2 linked regions of the Homo sapiens genome follow. The protein of the gene in region 1 interacts with the protein of each later gene in a pairwise test. Each region holds a gene or a part of one and is shown on either strand. Other genes may lie near its edges.

Region 1 (7,028 bases):
CTCTTTCTTTGTTTTTGTCCATATTGGTAGACTTGTATCATTTTATTGATTTGTTTCCCAGAGAACCAGACTTTTGTTGGATATTCCCTGTTGTCTTCCTGTTTTCAGTGTCATTGATTTCTACCCTCGTGTTTATTGTTTCCTTCTGTCTGCTTGCTTTGGGTTTATTTTGCTCTTCTTTTCTAGTTCCTTGAGGGAAGAACTTACTGACTTGAGACCTTTCCCTGTTACTAGTAAGCATTTAGTTCTATCAGTTTCCCTCTCTGCACTGCTTTAGCTATTTCTGACGTATTTTGGTATGTTGTATCTTCGTTGTCATTCACGTCTATGTATTTTTTGGTTTCGTTTGAGGCTTCCTCTTTAGCCCACCCCTACTTAGAATTGTGCTGTTCAATTTTGCTGTGTTTAGAGATTTTCTGTTGTCTCCCTATTACAGATTTCTAGTTTGATTCAATTATGGTTAAAGAACACACACTGTATGGTTTTGATTATTTTAAGGCTCTTGAGGTTTGTTTTATTACTCGGGATATGGACTGTCTTGATGGATATTCCATGGGTGCATGAAACGTGTATACCACTACGGTTGTGTGGAGTGTTCTTTGTATGGCAATTGCATCATGTTGATTAATTGAGTTATTCAGCTCTTCTGTTTCCATGCTGATTTTCTGTCTAGCAGTTCTATCACTTGATGAGAGGGGCATGGAAGTCCCCAGCTGTAATTGTGGATTTGTCTATTTCTCCTTCCAACACTGTCAGTTTTTCTTGATTTCTTCTGGGCCTCTTGTTTGATACTCACATGTATATTAGGGTCTTTGTGTCTCCCTAGTGGATTGATCTTTTTATCATAATGTAATACCTCTCTTTCTAATAATTTTCCTTGCTCTGGAGTATACTTTATTGTATATTACTGTGACCAGACCTGCTTTTAAAAATTGTTTGGACTTTTTCCATCCTTTTACTTTCAAACTATTGATGTTATTGAATTTGAAGTGAGTTTCTTGGAAACAGCCTATAGCTGGGTCATGTTTCTTTACCCACACTACTGATGTTTCTTTTGATTGGTGTATTTAGACCACTTACATAAAAGGTGATTATTGGTATGGTAGAGCTTAAGTCTACCATTTGATTATTTGGTTTCTTTATGTTTCTTCTGGTTCTTGTTCCTCTGTTTCTTTTTTCTTGCCTTGCTGTGGATTACTTGAATATATTTTAGGATACTGTTTTATTTATAGTACCTTTGGGTGTATTTGTATAGTTTTTATGATGGTTGATGTGAGTATTACAATATATATATGTGACTTATAGTCGATTGGTAACAACATTTATTACTTTGAGTCACCTTACTTTTATTTAGGTCACTTTACCTTTTTCATTTTTAAATATTGTTGTCTTAAATATCAGACAGTATTATGATTTTTGTTTTAATCATCAAGTATGATTTGTAACACTGATTAATAATGATGCTTGAGGAGAAGCATAATTTATTATATGTAGCCCAAATTTCTACTCTATTATTCTTCCCTCCTTCCTGATGCTTCAAGATTCCTTCTTTTATTATTTCCTTTCTATTTGAAGAAATTCCTTTAGCCAGTCTCAGGGTATGTCTGCTAGTGACACATTCTTTTGGTTTCCATTTGTGTGAGACTACCTCTGTTTTTAGATTTAGTTTCCCAATTTTTTTTTTTAATTTTTTTTGGAGACAGTGTCTTGCTCTGTCACCCAGGCTGGAGTACAATGGTGCAATCTCTGCTCACTGCAACCTCCGCCTCTTGGGTTCAAGCAATTCTTGTGCTCAGCCTCCTGTGTAGCTGGAACTACAGGCGCATGCCACCACACCCTGCTAATGTTTTGTATTTTAGTAGAGACGGGGTTTCACCACGTTGGCCAGGCTGGTCTCGAACTTCTGAGCTCAGAAAATCCACCCACTTTGGCCTCCCCAAGTGCTGAGATTACAGGCATGAGCCACCATGCCCAGCCCTAGTTTGCTAATATTTTACTTAGGATCTTCTATACTCACTACTGAGGTTGGCCATTAATTTCCCCTTCTTACCCTGTCCTTGTCCTGTCTTGATACCAAAGTTAGAATGAGCTGAAGAGCTTGTCCTCTCTTTTCTCTGGAACAGTGTATGTAATAATAGGGATTACTTGTTCCTTGAAAGTTGTTAGAAGTTGCTTATAAGCCATCTAGACATGGTGCCATGGTGGGTTTTGTTGTGAGCGGGGTTTTTTTGTTTTGTTTTGTTTTGTTTTGTTTTTTATCAGTCTTTACAATTGATTGGGTGTGAGGGACAATGGAAAGATCATCCCACTCTTCCCCAACAGTTGGTGATTCTCTGGTCATTTTAACAGCAAGAGAGGAAACAGTAATTTTACCAGCAATATGAATGTGAAGAAGTAGTTTTCTGAAAGCAGATGATGAAAATGGGGTGGGGAACCTAATCAGGTTCTGCAGGTGCCTGCAGTAATTCAGCGTATGAGATGGATATGAGAAATTCTTAGAAGAATCTAAAATCCTTATTAAACCTGAAGGTTGAATTCATCTCCAATACTGAGCTGCTAATATAGAGCAGTAGGGAATCACTGTAGATTAACCCCTTTAGTTTCTTGCTGGCTGAAGAAAGGTCTAATGACTCGGAAGCCTTTGAAAACCAAAGCATACATCCTTCTGGAATTTCCTTTTCTGCTGAAAGAAATACTAGCAGTGGCATGTGTGTGGTCCAGCCTCTTCAGCCGCACGATTCAAACACATCATATTCTAAAAGTCAGCAAGGCCACCACAGCTAATTACAACAACCCGAACAATACTGGCTAATTTCTTGTATTGGAAGCTTTGCCAGTGATGATGAAATGAATGTCATCCATTGTATCCCTTATTTTTGATAGCTGCAAAATTCTCCAGTTGTTCACATGTGTATATTTTGGTGCAGTAGTAAGACCTTTCACAAGCTTGCGAACTCTTCCAAACAGCTTCCAGACTCTACCCAACCTTACTTAGGCCTGATATAATTCTTTCTGTGTGCTAAGACAGTGTGAGATAGTACACAGTATCTTTTAGTTGGAGAAGGCAGCCCTCTAATCCTTAAAGCTTTTATTTCTGCAAAAACAATGAATCTGCTTTTATCACTGTTCCCTTAGTCTAAAGAATTGACTCATTTGTCAGCCTGAGGGAAGCTTTCCTTTTAGGACATTCTGCTTCTATCTTTCTTTCTTTTTTTTTTTTTTTTTTTTTTTTTTGAGTCTCATCCTGTCGCCCAGGCTGGAGTGCAGTGACACAATCTTGGCTCACTGCAACCTCCGCCTCTGGGGTTCAAGCGATTCTCCAGCCTCAGCCTCCCAAGTAGCTGGGATTACAGGTGTGCGCCACCACACCTGGCTAAGTTTTCATATCTTTAGTAGAGATGGGGTTTCACCATGTTGGTCAGGCTGGTCTCGAACTCCTGACCTCATGATCCACACGCCTCATCCTCCCAAAGTGCTGGGATTACAGGCATGACATTCTGCTTCCTAAGAACTTTGTGCAAATCACCAATGGGCACTTAGGCTGAAGTCCCAACTCCAGGCCCTTCTTGGCCTCTACACAGCACAATATAAGGGGCCCCAAATTGGACTGCCGAGAAAGAAGTGTGACTTACTGCTTTTCGTTCTCTGGGGCAAGGGAGAGAACAGAGTTAGTGGAAATGCACGTATGCAGTTGGTTCAAGGAGATCTCTGTCTGACAGCACTTTTGCTCCTAGAGCCCCAACGGTAAACTGACTGATTTCCTGAGCTTCTATACGCTCCCCTCCACGGTGATGCACCACCCTGCTCACAAGAGCCTCAAAGCCGCCTACTCATTCTACAACATCCACACAGAGACGCCCCTGCTGGACCTCATGAGCGACGCGCTCATCCTGGCTAAATCGGTAAGCCACTCCTTCCTGTTCACGCCGTTTGGTTCTCCAAATGTCTGTGCCAAACTATAGAAGACATCTTACTGTGTTTTCTTCCACACAGGTGGAATTTATGCGAGACTTTAAAAAAACTATTGATCATCAGTCAAAGGAAGAATTTTGATAAGAGTTTCTTTTGAAACTTTAGAGGCTATTTTCATCATTAATTTTATGGCAGTTTAACAAAAAAGACAAAATGTACAAATTATAAATGTTTAATCCTTATATAAGAATATATAAGGCTGGGCATGGTGGCTCAGGCTTGTAATCCCAACACTTTGGGAGGCCGAGATGGGTGGATCACCTGAGGTTAGGAGTTTAAGACCAGCCTGGTTAATATGGTGAAACCTCGTCTCTACTAAAAATACAAAAGTTAGCCAGGCTTCGTGGTGTGTGCCTGTAATCCCAGCTACTCGGGAGGCTGAGGCAGGAGAATTGCTTGAACCTGGGAGGCAGAGGTTGCAATGGAGCTGAGATTGCACCACTGCACTCCAGCCTGGGTGACAGAAACTGTCTCAAAAAAAAAAAAAAAAAAAAAAAAAAAAAAAAAAATATATATATATATATATATATATATATATATATATATATATAAAGCCCATATCTTAGGAAGTAATATAAGGAAAATATTAATACATGAGTGAATATTTTTGTTGAGTGAATAACTAGCAGCAATTTTTTTATTCAACCAAATAGTCTCTGAATTTTAAAATTAAAGGAATGAAATTCAAAATTTAATTGTAGCCAGTCTACATGGTGAAACCCTGTCTCTACTAAAAATACAAAAATTAGCAGGGTGTGATAGCACACACCTGTAATCCCAGCTACTCGGGAGGCTGAGGCAAGAGGATTACTTGAACCTGGGAGTTGGCGGTTGCAGTGAGCCGAGATTGCACCATTGCATTCCAGCCTGGGCCACAGAGTGAGACCCTGTCTCAAATTAATTAATTAATTAAAATAAAATAAAATAAAAATCTCTTACCTGTGCCTTTGGATCCCCAAGTCAACATCATCCTCAGATTGTCTGCTTTTTTTCAACACTTCCCAAATATGGCCAGTAATTAGTTATTTAAGGTAAAAACCCTGAGAAATAAAAATAAAAAGTGCTTCTTCTATATCACATTTTGCATAGTATTATTGTCTGACATTTTAAAGAAATTTAATTTTTTACCATTAAAATTTTACATAAATATATTTCCCATTATCAGCCCAAAGCAAACATACTATTTTTTTATACTTTTTTTTTTTTTTTTTTTTTTGAGATGAGTCTTGCTGTGTTACCCAGGCTGGAGTGCAGTGGCACAGTCTCGGCTCACTGCAACCTCTGCTTCCCATGTTCAAGTGATTCTCTTGTCTCAGCCTCCAGAGTAGCTGGGACTATAGGTGTGTGCCACCACACCTGGCTAATTTTTGTATTTTTAGTAGAGACAGGGTTTCATCATATTGACCCGGCTGGTCTCGAACTCCTGACCTCAGGTGATCCACCTGCTGCGGCCTCCCAAAGTGCGGGGATTACAGGCGTGAGCCACCACGCCCGGCCTGCATACTATTTAAAGTCTTTACAACTTTGGTCCCTGGGCAATAGCTTCAGCCAAGGTAGGACTTAGAAAGGCTAATAATTAATAATCCTGGAGATGAAACCATCTTGACAACTGTTCCCTTCTAAAACAAGAACGAGGCTGGGTGCAGTGGCTCATGCCTGTAATCCCAGCACTTTGGAAGGCCAAGGCAGGTGGATCACTTGAGGTCGGAGTTCAAGACCAGCCTGGCCAACACGGTGAAACCCGGTCTCTACTAAAAATACAAAGAAATTAGCTGGGCATGGAGGTGCACACCTGTAATGCCAGCTACTAGGAAGTTTGAGGCAGGAGAATTGCTTAAATCTGGGAGGTGGAGGTTGCAGTGAGCCGACATCATGCCACTGTATTCCAGCCTGGATGACAGAGTGAGACTCCATCTCAAAAAAATTTAAAAATAAATAAATAAAACATAAATAAAATATTTTCTGAAATCTTCATAAGTAATTTTATGCCAGTGACAGCCATCATACTACATTTTTAACATTTTTGGGATTCAGCGTTTCTGAATTTTCATGCTGACTTCATTGGATTCACTATAGTTTGTTTGTTTTTTGAGACAGGCGCTCACTCTGTTGCTCAGGTTTAAGTGCACTGGCACAATCACAGCTCACTGCAGCCTCGACCTCTTCGGCTTATGCAATCCTGCCTCAGCCTCCTGTGTAGCTGGGTCCACAGGCACACACCACCATGCCGAGTCAATCTTTTTATTTTTGTAGAGACAATGTCCTGTACCTACACCTACACCTATACCTACAGCCTATGCCCAGGCTGGTTTCAAATTCCTGGGCTCCAGTGAGCCTCCCACCTTGGCCTCCCAAAGTGCTGGGATTACAGGCGTGAGCCACCACATCCAGCCACACTGCTAGTTTTATAAGACAATTTTCAACTGAATTCTTCCTCTTTTTAAAGAAAGAAAAAAAAAAAGTCTCACTCTGTCGCTCAGGCTGGAGTGCCGTGGCACAATCTCGGCTCACTGCCACCTCTACCTCCCAGGCTCAAGCAGTTCTCCTGCCTCAGCCTCCTGAGTAGCTGGGACTGCAGGTGTGCGCCACCACATCTGGCTTATTTTTGTTATTTTTAGTAGAGATGGGGTTTCGCCATGTTGGTCAGGCTGGTCTCGAACTCCTGACCTCAAGTGATCCACCCACCTCAGCCTACCAAAGTGCTGGGATTATAGGCATGAGCCACAGCATCCGGCCCTGAATTCTTAACCTATGCTATATATCACGGACGTTAAATCCTATTAGAAATGCATATTCGAGCTATTAGTAGAATTGTTAAACTGAGATATGTAATACAGAAAACACTAGTCCTTTGTTTTAAATTTTAAATCTTTTTTAAATTGGCAGAAAGGATTTGATGTATTCAATGCACTGGATTTGATGGAAAATAAGACATTCTTGGAAAAACTCAAGTTTGGTATAGGAGATGGCAATTTGCAGTATTACCTGTACAATTGGAGGTGTCCAGGTACAGATTCTGAAAAGGTAAGTGAAATGGATATAGCCCTTGTAAACTC
Region 2 (7,028 bases), on another chromosome or scaffold:
CCTCCAACCTAGTAATTCTACTTCTAGTTATATACTTTTGCATATGTTCTCCAGGAGATATTTGCAAGCATGTACACAGCAGACCCCAAATGTAAACAGCCCAAACGCTCATTAATGGTAACATATAAATAAAGTATTGATCACTTGTACAATGAAATCCTGTAGAACACTGGAAACTAATGAACTATAGCTTCACACAACATGGGTTTATCTCCAAAACATAATGTTGAAGGGAAAAAAACAAGTGAGAAGAATACATATGATATCATTTCATTTAAACAAAATTTTGCAAACCGGTAAAACTAAAGAATATGATTCAGACATACAAATATGTACTGAAACTACAAAGGAAATCATTAATTAATATAAAATTTGGGATAGTGGTAATCTCTCAAAGATTACCACTAGGGAAGGCCATATGATTGAGAGGCATGCACAGGAGGTTCAAAGATATTGGTGATGTTCTATTTCTTAAGCTAAGTAGTGGGTAAATTTTTAAAAGCTTTGTTTAAATTCTTCATATACATTTTATATACTCTTTTGCAGCATGATTATCACACAACACAGTGTGTGGGTTTTTGTTGTTGTTGTTGCTCATTTGTTTCAAGAGAAAGGGTATGGAGCTGAATTTCACGGACTTTTTGAGACAGGGTCTGGCTCTGTCTCCCAACCTGGAGTGCAGTGGCGAGATCATGGCTCACTGCAGCCTTGACCTTCTGGGCTCAAGCAAATCCTCCCACCTCAGCTTCCTGAGTAGTTATAACTATATAGGTGTGTGCTACCATGCTTGGCTCTCACTTTGGGAGTCTCACTTTGTTGCCCAGGCTGGTCTCAAACTACTAGGCTCAGGCAATCCTCCCGCCTTGGCCTCCCAAAGTGCTGGGATTACAGGCATACACCACTGCACCCGGCCCTATAGCCATTTTATTGAGCACATACTGTACCAGTCCAGTCAGGAATACAGGTAAGATTCCTGCTATTCAGAATGGATTGTAAATATGTAAACAACCAATTCTAACACAAAAGAATGAATAAGAAATGTGGCAGAAATACATACACTGCAAAGGCAGGGAGGAAGGAGGAGACTGAGGGATCAGGAAACACTACAAATTGGTAGTAAGATGTAAGATGAGCTTTGAAGGATCGAGCAAAATTTCTGAGAAGGAAAGGCATTGCAGAATGCGAAAATACCACTAGGAGAGGCATGACAAGGAATGCTGGAGAACTGTCTCTGCTGGCTCAGGGAAGCAGTACAAAGAGTTGAAAGTACAGAGGTTGGATTGAAGTCAAGTTATCTAGGGCCTTGAATCGGTCACACTAAGAAGTCTGAGTTTTGTCAAGTGATCCACAGGCATTTATGAGGAGTGGAGTGGCATAATTTGGCAAGCACCGATCTGATTTCTGTCCCTATAGTTTTGTCTTTTTCCAGAAATAGAAATCATATAGCATAGTCTTTTGTATCTGGTCTCTTTCACTTAGCATGTTGCTTTTGTGATCCATCCACATTGCTTCAAGTATCAGTTCTTTCCTTTTGATTGCTGAGTAGTATTCTACTGTATGCATGTATGCAGTCATCTGGGCTGCTTCCAATTTTTGGCATTATGAACAGGGATCTTACGAACAGTTGGGTAAAGGTCTTTGTGTTGTCCTGTTTTATGTTTTCACAGCTTGTGGGTAAATATCTAGAAGTAGAATTGCTGAGTCATATGGCAAGTGAATGTTTAACTTTCCAGGAAACTACCAAACTTTTCTAAAGTTTTCACTCACACCAATAAGTATAAATTCCAGTTCCTTTGCACCCTTACCAGCACTTTACTATTATTAAAAATATTTTTTAGCCATTCTAGTTAGGTCTATGGTGGCTTTTCATTGTGATTTCTAATCTGTACTTCCCTAATGTCTAACAATGAACATTTCTCATGTGCTTATCTGCCAACTATCTATCTTTGGTGATTTATCTGTTCAAATCTTTTGTTCATTTGTTAATAAGGTTGTCATTTTCTTATAAGAGGTCTTTATATGTTGTGGACACAAAATTTTTTTTTCCAAATATATGTTTTATAAATATTTTCTCCCAGTATATGACTTCTCATTTTTTTTAAGAGTATCTTGAAGAGTGGAATTTTTAAATTTTGATAAAGTGCAATTTATTTTTTCTTTTATAGTTTGTGCTTGTGTTCCATCTAAAAAAAACTTTGCCTACACCAAGATCACAAAGATATTCTTCTAGTTCTTTATCATTATTCCTCTTACATATACATCTAAGATCTTACCTTCCCAGTTAATTTTTGAGTAGGCTTCAGGCTCACCTTTTTGTTTTGTTTTGCATTTTGATGTCCAATTGTTACAGCTCTATACGTTGAAAAGGCTAGTCTTCCCTCCACTGAATTTTATGTTGGCATTTTTGTCAAAAATCAGCTGACCATTTGTGATTGGATCTATTTCTAGGTTATCTATCATGTTCCTTTGATCTATATACCTATTCTTATACCAATACAACATTGGCTTGATTTCTGTACTTTATAGTAAGTCCTGAAACCAGTGTGGGGCCTCCAACTTTATTCTTTTTCAAAGTTGTTTTGATTATTCTAGGTCCTTTGCTTTTCCATATAAATTTTAGAATCAACTTATAAGTTTTTACAAAGATCCTGCTGGGATTCTGATTGGGACCCCGCTGAATCTATGAATCAATTTGGAAAGAATGGACAGCTGAACAATACTGAGTCTTTTGATCCATGAACAATGGTATCTCTTTCCATTTAAATTTTCCTTAATTTCGATAATATTTAGGAATTATACACATACAAATCTTACTCTTATTTTGTTTGATGTATCCCTAAGAATTTCATGTTTTTGAGGCTACTGCAAATAATATCTTTTAAAAATTCAATTTACTGTAAGCATAAAGAAAAACAATTAAGATTTGTATACTATCCCTGGTGTTTTCGAATTTTAATTTTCAATTGTTCATTACTAGTATATAGGAATACTTTTCATGTTTGTATATTGATTTTACATCCTGTGAACTTGGTGAACTCACTTATTCTAGGTTTTTTTTTTTTAATAGATTCTTGGGGTCTTATACATAGATGGACACATCACCTACGAGAAAAGGAAGTTTTATTTCTTCTTTTTAAATCTATGTGGCTTTCATTTCTTTTTCTTGCCTTAATGCATTGGCTAGAACTTTTAATACAATGTTGGATCAAAGTGGAGAGAGTGGATATCTTTGTCCACAGTCTTAGAGGGAAAGTGTTCAGCCTTTCATCATCAAGGACGATATTAACTGTCGATTTTCTCAGGCTAAAGAAATTCCCTACTATTTCCTATTTCTATTTTGTTGTGAGTTTTTGTTGTTGTTGTTGTTTTAATCATGAAGGGAAGTTGAATTTTGTCAGCCTTTTCTACATAAATTGATAAAATCACATTTTGCTTTTTTGATCTGTTCATATGGTGAAATACTATGGTTCTCAATTGCCAAACAAACCTTGCATTCCTAGGATAAACACACTTGCACAAAATTTATTAACCTTTTTGTATTTACTAGGTTCAATTTGCTAACATCTTATTAAACATTTTTGCATCTATGTTCATAAGGAATACTGGCCTGTTGTTTTCTTTTCCTCTAAGGTCTTTGTCTGGATTTGGTTATCAGGGTAATTCTGGTTTCACAGAATGAGCTGGGCAGTGCTCCCTCCCCTTCTATTTTCTGGAAGTGTTTGTGTGTAGAATTTTTTTTTTTTTTTTTTTTTTGAGACAAAGTCTCACTCTGTTGCCCAGGCTGGAGTGCAATGGTGCAAATGGCATGATCTTGGCTCACTGCAACCTCTACCTCCTGGGTTCAAGCAATTCTCCTACCTCAGCCTCCTGAGTAGCTGAGATTACAGGCACCCACCACCACACCCAGCTAATTTTTGTATTTTTAGTAGAGACGGGGTTTTGCCACATTGGCCAGGCTAGTCTCAAACTCCTGACCTCAGGTGATCTGGCTGCCTCACCTCTCAAAGTGCTAGGATTATAGGCATGAGCCACTGTGCCTGGCCAATTTCATCCTTAAATACTCAGTAGAATTCACCAGTGAAGTAATCAAGGCCTGGAAATCTTGTGGGAAAGTTTCTAGCTACAAATTCAATCTCTTTTATAAATATAGAGCTATCCAGATTTTCTATTTTTTATTTTTGTTTTTTTTTAAGATGGAGTCAGGCTATGTTGCCCTAGCTAGATGTAGTGGCTATTCACAAGCATGATCATAGTGCAGTGCAGTGTTGAACTCCTGGCTCCAAGTGATCCTCTTCCCCAAGCCTCCCAGCTGGGACTAAAGGCATGCACTTCTATTTCCTTTTTTTTTTGAGATGAAGTCTGGCTCTGTTGCCCAGGCTGGAGTGCAGTGGCACGATCTTGGCTCAGTGAAATCTCCGCCTCCCGGGTTCAAGTGATTCTCCTGCTTCAGGCTCCCGAGCAGCTGGGATTACAGGTGCGCACCACCACATCTGGCTAATTTTTGTGTATGTAGTAGAGACAGGGTTTCACCATGTTGGCCAGGCTGATCTCGAACTCCTGACCTCAGGTGATCCGCCCGCCCCAGCCTCCCAAAGTGCTGGGATCACAGGTGTGAGCCACCACACCTGGCTTTCTATTTCTTTTTCAGAAAACTTTGGTAGTTTGTGTCTTTAAAAAAATTTGTCCTGGCCAGGTGCGGTGGCTCTTGCCTGTAATCCTAGCAGTAGCATTTTGGGAGGCCAAGGCAGGCAGATTGCCTGAGGTCAGGAGTTTGAGACCAGCCTGGGCAACATGGTGAAACCCTGTCTGTACTAAACTACAAAAATTAGCCGGGCATGGTGGCGCATTCCTATAATACCAGCTACTCCGGAGGCTGAGGCAGGAGAATCGCTTGAACCTGGGAGGTGGAGCCTGAAGTGTGAGCAGGCTGAGATCGCACCACTGCACTCCAGCCTGGGTGACTGAGACCCTGACTTAAAAAAATATATAATAATAATAATAATAAATTTGTCCATTTCATTTAAGTTATCTATTTCATTGGTATAAAATTGTGTATAATGTTTCCTTATTTGCTTTATAATATCTTTAGGATATGTACTGATATCCTTTCATTCCTGAAACTGGTAATTTGCCTTTTGTTTTTTTTTTTGGTGTCACATCTCACTTTGTTACTCAGGCTGGAGTGCGGTGGCACAATCATAACTCACTGCATCCTGGAACTCCTGGGCATGAGTGATCCTCCTGCCTCAGCCTCCTGAGTAGCTGGGACTTACAGGCTCAAACAACTATGCCTGGCATGTTTTAAAACATTTGTTGTAGAGATGGGGTCTTGCTATGTTGCCCAGGCTGGGTCTCGAACTCTTAGTCTCAAGTGATCCTTCTGCACTGGTCTCCCAAAGTGCTGGGATTACAGGTGTGAGCCACAGCATCCAGCCTGTTTCTTCTCTTTTTTTTCTTCCTTGGTCTGGCTAGAGGACTATGTTTTATTGATCTTTACAAACAACCAGTTTTTGATTTCACTGATTTTCTGTTTTCTGATTTTCTATTTCAATGATTTCTGCTCCGATCTTTATTGTTTCACACTTACTTTGGGCTTAATTTGCCCTTCTTTTTTTGAGATAGAAGCTTGGATCACTGATATGAAATCTTTCTTCTTTTCTAATAGTATTTAATTTCCTTTAAAGCACTGGTTTAGCTGCATCCTGCAATTTTTTTTTTTTTTTTTGAGGCGGAGTCTTGCTCTGTCGCCCAGGCTGAAGTGCAGTGGTGCAATCTTGGCTTGCTGCAACCTCTGCCTCCCTGGCCTGGCTTAAGCGATTCTCCTGCCTCAGCCTCCCAAGCATCCCACAAGTTTTGACAAGAGTGTTTTCATTTTCATTCAGTTCAAAATATTTTATATAGGCATAACTTATTTTATTGTGCTTAACTTTACTGTGCATCACAGATAATGCATTTTTTTTTTCAAATTAAAGATTTGTGGCAACTCTATATTTAAGCAAGTCTATCGGTGCCATTTTCCCAACAGCATTTGTTCATTTTGTGTCTCTGTGTCACACTGTGGGGATTCTCACAATATTTCAAACTTTTCATTATTGTTATTTCTGTTGTGAGGATCTATGATAAATGATCTTTGATGTTACTATTGTAATTTTTTGGGGGTGCCATGAACTGCACCCATATAATATGAATTTCATCAATCAATGTTTTATGTGTTCTGACTGTACCATGGAACAGCCAATCCCTCGTCTATCCCTCTCCTTGGGTCTCCCTATTCCCTGAGACACAATAATATTGAAATTAGGCCAATAATCCTACAATGAACTCCAATCCTTTTACTCAAGTAAAAGGAAGAGTCACACATCTCTTATTTTCAATCAAAAGCTAGAAATGATTAAGCTTAGTAATGAAGGCATGTCAAAAACCAACATAGGACAAAAGCTAGGCTTTTGTGCCAGTCAGCCAACTTGTGAATGCCAAATAAAAGTTCTTGAAGAAAATTAAAGCACTATTCCAGTGAACATACAAATGACAGGAAAGCAAAACAGCCTTATTGCTGATTTAGAAAAAGTCTGAGTGGTCTGGGTAGAAGATCAAACCAGCCACAACATCCCCTGAAGCCAAAGTCTAATCCACAGCAAGGCTCTGGCTCTTTCATTCTACGAAGACTGAAAGAGATGAAGAAACTGCAGAAGAAAAGTTAGGAGTTGGCAGAGGCTGACTCATGAGGTTGAAGGAAAGTTGTCTCCATAAAATAAAAGTGCAAGGTAAAGCAGTAAGTGCTGATGCAGAAGTGAGAGCAAGTTATCCAGAAGATCTAACTAAGATAAAGATAACTGATGAGGATGGCTATACTACACAACAGATTTTCTTTTTTTCTTTTCTATTAGACAGAGTTTCACTCTGTCGCCCAGGTTGGAGTGCAGTGTTGCGATCTTGGCTCCCTGCAACCTTTGCCTCCTGGGCTCAAGCGATTCTCGTACCTCAGCCTCCTGAGTAGGTGAGATTACTGGCCATGTGCCACCATGACT

The links. The genes of interacting proteins can lie anywhere in the genome.
Region 2: the proteins of NMT2 (region 1) and ACBD6 interact in binary tests that used the Homo sapiens proteins (3 or more experiments, as listed by UniProt).

What each region holds. Positions count from the first base shown.
Region 1 is NC_000010.11:15,109,670-15,116,697, reverse strand, and holds part of NMT2 (glycylpeptide N-tetradecanoyltransferase 2), read left to right. Parts: intron 1-3,734; coding exon 3,735-3,902; intron 3,903-4,911; exon of another isoform or gene 4,912-5,170; intron 5,171-6,858; coding exon 6,859-6,996; intron 6,997-7,028.
Region 2 is NC_000001.11:180,289,564-180,296,591, forward strand, and holds part of ACBD6 (acyl-CoA-binding domain-containing protein 6), read right to left. Parts: intron 1-7,028. UniProt on the Homo sapiens protein: Binds long-chain acyl-coenzyme A molecules with a strong preference for unsaturated C18:1-CoA, lower affinity for unsaturated C20:4-CoA, and very weak affinity for saturated C16:0-CoA. Does not bind fatty acids. Plays a role in protein N-myristoylation.